Homo sapiens: one gene and its partner. The protein of the gene in region 1 purifies or fractionates together with the protein of each later gene. This does not show direct contact. Each region holds a gene or a part of one and is shown in the gene's direction. Other genes may lie near its edges.

Region 1 (3,754 bases):
TTTTATCGTTGTTGCTGGAAAATGTAACTAAGATATGTCTCCGATCTAACAATGGGTAAGAATATCCTGCTATTAATTTGGACTTGGCAACTATAATATTGAATCCCTTGAAAGAAAATGCATGAACTTTAGACCAAGATTTTAGTGTTATGCAGAACTTAATATGACAACACTAAGAACATATCACCACATATTTAAATAGGTACTTTTGTTAAAAATTTTAAGTTTCAGATGATAACGCCTTTTTAACTAGACATAAAAGCTACAATTTTATGGCTAGAGTCATCTCTCTAATTTTCTAGAGTACTTTCTCATCCATATCTTTTTGTATCATTCTAGCTAAATCTCTTCTCTTTTGTATTATACCAAAACAGACAAATGGTTTTTTTTTAGATACCCTGTTTTTTCATATACTGGAAGATAAGAAATATCACATTGGTCTTTGTCTTGCAACAGTTTTGTAGGATGAGTTAATGTGTTTATCTTCATTGTAGAATGTGTGGGTTCTTTAGTCATGGAGTAGAAATAGAGATGTCTGTTTATCATTAGCAATTATCTTCTGTGTTGTTCAAACTCTTTAACATTTTCCTTTTAGGAAGATTACTAAGCAGAGCTAACACTGAAAAATCTTATGGTATTGATGAAAACGGGAGAGATGAGAATACTATGAAAAATATATTTTCAAAAAAGAGGAAATTAGAAGTTGCATGTTCAGATTGTGAAGTTGAAGTTCTCCCATTAGGATTGGAAACACATCCTAGAACTGCTAAAACTGAGAAATGTCCACCAAAGTTCAGTAATAATCCCAAGGAGCTTACTGTGTAAGTAACAGCTGAGGAACCCAGAGTAAATCTAAATTATTATCAATCAATTGGTTCTTTTTCATTCCTTCCCCTCTTTCTTTTCTCCTCATTTGTATTTATCATTTTGCTTCAAAGTTGTTAAGTCTAACACTTTGAGAAATCCAGGACATGTAAAAATCTAGCCAATATACCATCCTCAGTGTTCCAGTTTTGGAATTTTACCTTATATGACTTTAGTCAGGTTTTTTATGGATGTCATAAGTTTTGCTGTTTTTTAAAATTTTCTATCATTTTATCTGCAAAGTTTTCATAGGTTCTCTTCCTTTTCCAAATGTACTTCAAAAATTATTTATGATTATATTTCCTTTCTCTAGGGAAAGGAATAAACATAGATGTTCTTACTTAGGTTAATTTATAATAATTAAGGATATTTATGTAATAATGGATATTATCTGTACTTGAGTAAAGAGAATGAAGAGAATTTTTAGTGATACAGAATAACTTTTTTTTCCTTTTTAGGGAAACGAAATATGATAATATTTCAAGAATTCAATATCATTCAGTTATTAGAGATCCTGAATCCAAGACAGCCATTTTTCAACACAATGGGAAAAAAATGGTAAAAAATGCAAAATGTAGTTGGGACCCTTCTTTTCTTTTTTAAATTTTTTTTTTTTTTTTTTTTTTTTTTTTTTTTTTTTTGACGCAGAGTCTCACTCTGTCACCCAGGCTGGAGTGTGGTGGCACAGTCACAGCTCACTGCAGCCACAATCTCCTGGGCTCGAGTATCCTCCTCCCTCAGCCTCCCGAATGGCTGGGACTACAGGTGCACACCACCATGCCCAGCTCTTATTTAGTAGAGATGGGGTCTCACTATATTGCCCAGGCTGGTCTCCAACTCCTGAGCTCTAGCAGCTGTTGTGCCTCAGCCTCCCAAAGTTCTGGGATTATAGGCATGAGCCACCGCACCCAGCTGCTGGGGCCCTTCTGAGATGTAAACTATTGCCTTCCTATCCTTTACTTAGCTCAAAATGTTTGTGTTACTTTATAGTGTGTAGAATTTCTTTTATTGTTTTGGAATGGTGGACGGTGGAAATGCTAGGACCATGTTCTGTTTACTTAGTATCATCCACGGCAGTTGACATGTTTCCAGCTTGGCTGTATGAGGAGAATGCTGGTCATGATCTGACAGTGTGCTCCACTGAGACCGAGAGGTATCCCATTCTGAGAGTTTGTGGGAGAAGCTAAAGTCTTCAGGAGTTAATAGTGATATATAAGAAAAGGGACAAAGTAATTTAGGTGAAGGAGAACAAGGTTTTTGTTTTTTGTTTTGTTTTGTTTTGAGATGGAGTTTCACTCTTGTTGCCCAGGCTGGAGTGCAATGGCACGATCTCAGCTTATTGCAACCTCTGCCTCCTGGGTTCAAGCGATTCCCCTGCTTCAGCCTCATGAGTAGCTGGGATTACAGGTGCCTGCCACCATGCCCAGCTACTTTTTTGTATTTTTAGTAGAGACGGGGTTTCATGATGTTGGCCAGCTGGTCTCAAACTCCTGACCTCAGGTGATCCACCCACTTTGGCCTCCCGAAGTGCTGGGATTAGAGGCGTGAGCCACTGCGCCTGGCTGAAGGTTTTAAGATGTATGAGAAAGAAGAGATGCAATTTTATGAAAGAATCATCCAGAAAACAGTATTTTATGTGGTAGCCTCTGAGGGTACCCTTTGCATTGTGAACTAAAGATTAGTCAGAGACTGAAACGTAGAAGCAGAGAAAGAGAAAAGAGAACAAAGAGAGACATAATGGTAGCTTACTTTAGGGCTTGTTGATGAAGAGTAAAAACTCTGCTTTAGGTGTTATGCAAATATTTGCCCTCTGCCTGGTAATGGTACAGTAGCTACCTCCTTAAGGTCAGAGAATTATGAAAAGATTGGCCATGGTGTCACACAGACCCAGGTGTAACCTCCAGCTCTGCTGCGTGCTAGCTGGGTGGTATCTCCATACATACATTTCTTTTATCTGTAAAAAGGTAATAGTATATGTTTCAGAATTATGAGGATTAAATGAGATAAGCATCAGCAACTTGCTTAGCATCCAACTAAGTGCTCAATACATGTTGACCATTCACATGCTGAGAACTTTCATAGTAATAATATGGTCAATGTGTATTGAATACTTAGTTGGTTGCCAAGCATTGTGCTGAGTATATACGCCTCTTTTAAAGTTATCATTACTACTTAAAGTGACTGCAGTGTCTACAATGTGTAAGCATTATCACATTCGTTAACCTTTCTTTGAAGTAGAAACTAGCCAATGAGTGTTTTTCATCTTTACACAACTTACAGTTGAAGGCAAATTTATAATCTAGTAATAACACTTTCTAAGTACTGAGATGATTAGAATTGGGGGATACAGACAGGGATGCATTAAGATTTTAATTCCCAAAGAATTTCTTGACAGTCTTTATAGCTGTGGCTTAATAAAGCACCTAGAAGTAGAACAGAGTCAAAGGGGATGACACTTGTTGACTCCATTAGTCTAAAGACTCCTTATGATATCAGCTTTGAGGCTTTTCAAAACGAATCTAGTACATATAGCCTATGATGATTGACACTTGATGAAAGAGGCCTAACTGCTAAATACTTTTGCCTGACCTGGAAAGTAAAGACATCTTCCTTGTTTTTTTAAGGAATTTGTTTCCTCGGAGTCTGTCACTCCAGAAGATAATGATGGATTTAAACCACCCCGAGAGCATCTGAACTCTAAAACCAAGGGAGCACAAAGTAGGCTTTGTTTCTTCTGTGAATGCCTACCTCTTCTGCCTGTTTCTCTGTCTCTTGCTCAATACCTGTAGCTCATTTTCTTAGATTCCATAATAAACATGCTGCATTTGTCAGAAAGGTTACAACTTGTCTACATAAGAGATCAGCAAAATATCGTGTGTGGGCCAAATCT
Region 2 (3,754 bases), on another chromosome or scaffold:
AAAACAAAAAACCCTAGCCTGTATGCTGAAGTAGATGTGTGTTTGCAAACAATCCTTCAAGACTGGAAAAGGGTGGGGTATTGTGGCACACGCCTGTAATCCCAGCACTTTGGGAGGCCAAGGTGGGAGGATCACTTGAGGCCAGGAGTTCAAGACCAGCCTGGCCAACATGGCAAAACCTGTCTCTACTAAAAATACAAAAATTAGCTGGTCATGGTGGTGGGCACCTGTAATCTCAGCTACTGGGGAGGCTGAGGCACAAGAATCTTTTGAACCCAGGAGACAGAGGTTGCAGTGAGCTGAGATTGTGCCACTGCACTTCAGCCTGGGTGTGACAGAGCGAGACTCCATCTCAAAAGAAAAAAAAGAGAGAGAGACTGGAAAAAGAGACCTAATCAAGTAAAGGAAAAAATTTAATTAAAAAAATCTAGACTATGGAAGATAATTAATATGTACAAGTTTTATTGATCAATTTATTTAAATTTACTAAAATAATTTAGAATTAATTGTGCTGCCTAAGTCATCAGGCATTTCAGCAACAATTGCTTTTAACTCAGTTCGAACTTAAGAAGGGATATTGTGACTTTTTAAAGCCCTGAATCAAGTTCTTTTCTGAACTTGGTCAACTCCCAGCTGCCATTTAGATGGTTTTAAAGTATTCGGTCCTGGATTTACGCCATAAACTTAATAAGATTCTGCTCCAGCAACATGTAGTAAAAACTGTTTTTCTCTTGGCTTTTTAAAGTAAACAAACAAACAAACAAAACAGTTCTCATAAATTCCTTTTAATCAATTCCTTTTCTTTCCATCTTACTACATGCTTTTGTCACTTCATTAAGTAGATACTATGTGCCAGTTTTTCTGCTAGGTCCTGATAACTGTTAAGATGAACAAGACAGGGTTTCTAGTTCCAAGGAGCACAGAATCTGGTGAAGACAGCAGATATGCCAGTGAAGGATTATGACAGAAGGTGACTGAGCCTCCTGTAAATATGAGCAGCACTCTGTTTTCTCCTGACCTCATATTGCGTTCCCACAGCAGCTCCGAGGCTGTTCTCAGTGTATGCTGATCTTCACTTTTATTGAGTGTTTTCTCTGGAAAAAGGCCAATAAAAACATTTCATTTCTCTTTTGGACAATATATATTTCTAAGAGCCAGGTTTTTCTGCACCAAAACCTTACAACCAATGGTCTGCACTGGTTTTCCAGCCATGCTTAAGCCCGTATTACCAACATTTCTGGTCCCAGTCGCCTCTGCAGGGGAGTCTCTTCCACTAGCGTGTTTCTGTTTCCAGCCCTCAATGGATACCTCTTCGGAAACTTCCCGGAGCCTGATATGTGTGTTGGAGAATCTGTGTCCTGGCACCTATTTGGAATGGGGAATGAAATAGACATCCATTCTATCTATTTCTATGGTAACACCTTCATCAGCAGAGGGCATCGGACTGATGTCGTCAACCTGTTCCCAGCCACCTTCCTTACAACAGAAATGATAGCCGAGAATCCTGGGAAGTGGATGATAACCTGCCAGGTCAGCGACCACCTACAAGGTAAAAAGGATAAAGACCAGAGTTGATATGTTTAGAATGGTACAATCAAACCACACAGTCACTAGTGCTCATCCAGTACCTACTGTTAGATAGAGCCTTGTATGTACTATATTTAATTAGGTAATAAATATACAGGAAAATATAACGCTCATCTCTTTGATATTCTATCAACAGATATTTATTGACCACTTCTGTATGAAAAAAGTGGGGAAGTGATTAAAAATTGATGAGACCTTCGAGGAACCTGTAGTATAGTTGTTAGACATAGTTAGACATTCACAAAATGAATACGATTTAAGGCAGAATGAGATAAATGCTCTTTGGGTGTTGCAGTCACTACTCTGGAGCAATCAGAGGGGCTTCCTGAGGAGCTGGCTCCTAACATGAGCCTTGAAATATGAGTAGGAACTGAATAGATGAAGAAGGAAAGAAAGACTTTTGAGGAAGCAGCATGAACTGGGAAAAACACATGTTCTTTTTGAGCAACTGTAAGTAGAGTAATAAGGTTTTAGCACTGGAAAGGACTTTCTGGATAATAAGGACCAATCCCCCCTCGAATTATTTAATTTCGTTTTGAACATCTCTTGTGAGTAGTTATAGCAGCTCATCTCATCTCTGGACTGCTCTATTGGAATGTTCTTCCTCAAATTGAGACAAAATCCATTGACCTATAGCTTCCTTCATGTCCTATGATAGGTGCATGATAAACATTTGTTGGCTTAAATGCCTGTTGAATGACCTGGTCCTGGTTTCTTCAGACATCATACACTATGTCCTTTCTTAGCTGGACCATAATGTTCCTTACAGAGAAGTGATGACAGAAGAGCCTGGGAGGCTCATCAGGCCCCTTAGCAAAGCTAAGGAGGTGGGGCTGTGTGATCCTTAGCTCTTTTGGCACACTAGTGACATAATCGGTGCAGTTATTTAAGAAGATAAATGTATGCATGCAAGAAGGACTTGATGGAGGAATTCTGACCACTGGATGCTAGTTAAGAAGCATTTGACAGTGTTAGAGGTCTAACACCTAAACGTCTGCCCTAAGATGATGAAACCAAGACAGAAAAAATATGTTAATGGAATAGACACAGAAGAAATAATGTCTGATATTTGGATACTAACTTCCCATAGTCACTAATAGGTGCAAAGATCCAGCTGCTCAGGGCTGCTTTTGTAACACATTCTTGTTCCTGTCCACCTTCCACAGTGAGTCATAGCATTAGTCAACTGCAGTATCCCAATTACATTCAACTGAAAAATTAATCAGTTAATATGTACTAGATGCTCTTCTGGGAAAACAAAGATTAACAAGAGAAGGTTTCTATTCTCAAAGAGTCTTATGCTGTTAAATCTGGGAAGAAACTGTAGATTTAAAATCAAGATATTAGCTGCCATTTGAGACTAGTAAGATCGCTAAATTAGCCCGATAGTTGTGGACATAAGCTAGTATTTATACGTTCCCTGAAATACAGTATTTCTAAATTGTCCATGCCTTCAGAAAAAAGTTATTGTAAAAAAATTAGAAAATACATATAATTGGAGGTTTTTTAACAAATAGAGACAGGGTCTTGCTATGTTGCCCAGGCTGGTCTCAAACTCCTGGGCCCAAGCAATCCTCCCACCTTAGCCTTTCAAAGTGCTGGGATTATAGGCATGAGCCACTGGATCTGGCCCCTATAAATTGGTTTTAAAATCAGTAGTTCCATAATAGAAATATTTTATATTCACATTTTGGTGAATATCTTCCCTATTTTCTATTTCTTAATATGTAAATATATATGTATTTTAAAAAATGAAATCAGTCTATTAATGCTGCACTGTAGCTAATTTTTCTCATTTACAAATATATCAGAAACACATTTTCATGTCGGTGAATATAGAGCTTACTTCATCATGGTTAATACTTCCAGTGTCCATTATAAGGAGATTACATCTTGCTTAATCAATACTCTATTGCTTAATGCTTATGTTTCCCACCAATTTTTTTGCTATTATAAACAGCACTGATGACTATTATTTATAGATGTTTGCACTTTTGTCTGAACATTTTCTTAGAAAAACTCCTAGATTTAGAATTTCTGGGTCAAAGAGTATGATTTTTTTAAAAAAGCTATGGACATACATTGCCACATTCTCTTTTGGAAATTGTTATTCTTCTACACGAAGTGTATGAGTATGGCTCTTTCCCCATTCATCTACCAACACTGA

Evidence for each region. Proteins that work in one complex are often made in the same cells at the same time.
Region 2: the proteins of SETDB2 (region 1) and HEPHL1 purify together in Homo sapiens (affinity purification with mass spectrometry; 2 studies listed by BioGRID and IntAct, with this or other methods). This does not show direct contact.

Annotation. Positions count from the first base shown.
Region 1 is NC_000013.11:49,482,142-49,485,895, forward strand, and holds part of SETDB2 (histone-lysine N-methyltransferase SETDB2), read left to right. Parts: exon of another isoform or gene 1-55; intron 56-595; coding exon 596-821; intron 822-1,322; coding exon 1,323-1,422; intron 1,423-3,488; coding exon 3,489-3,582; coding exon of another isoform or gene 3,583-3,653; exon of another isoform or gene 3,654-3,704; intron 3,705-3,754. Other genes in the region: SETDB2-PHF11 protein, read left to right, coding at 596-821, 1,323-1,422, 3,489-3,582. UniProt on the Homo sapiens protein: Histone methyltransferase involved in left-right axis specification in early development and mitosis. Specifically trimethylates 'Lys-9' of histone H3 (H3K9me3).
Region 2 is NC_000011.10:94,066,202-94,069,955, forward strand, and holds part of HEPHL1 (ferroxidase HEPHL1 precursor), read left to right. Parts: intron 1-769; exon of another isoform or gene 770-1,094; intron 1,095-1,233; exon of another isoform or gene 1,234-1,294; coding exon 1,295-1,549; intron 1,550-3,754. UniProt on the Homo sapiens protein: Is a copper-binding glycoprotein with ferroxidase activity. It oxidizes Fe(2+) to Fe(3+) without releasing radical oxygen species. May be involved in the regulation of intracellular iron content.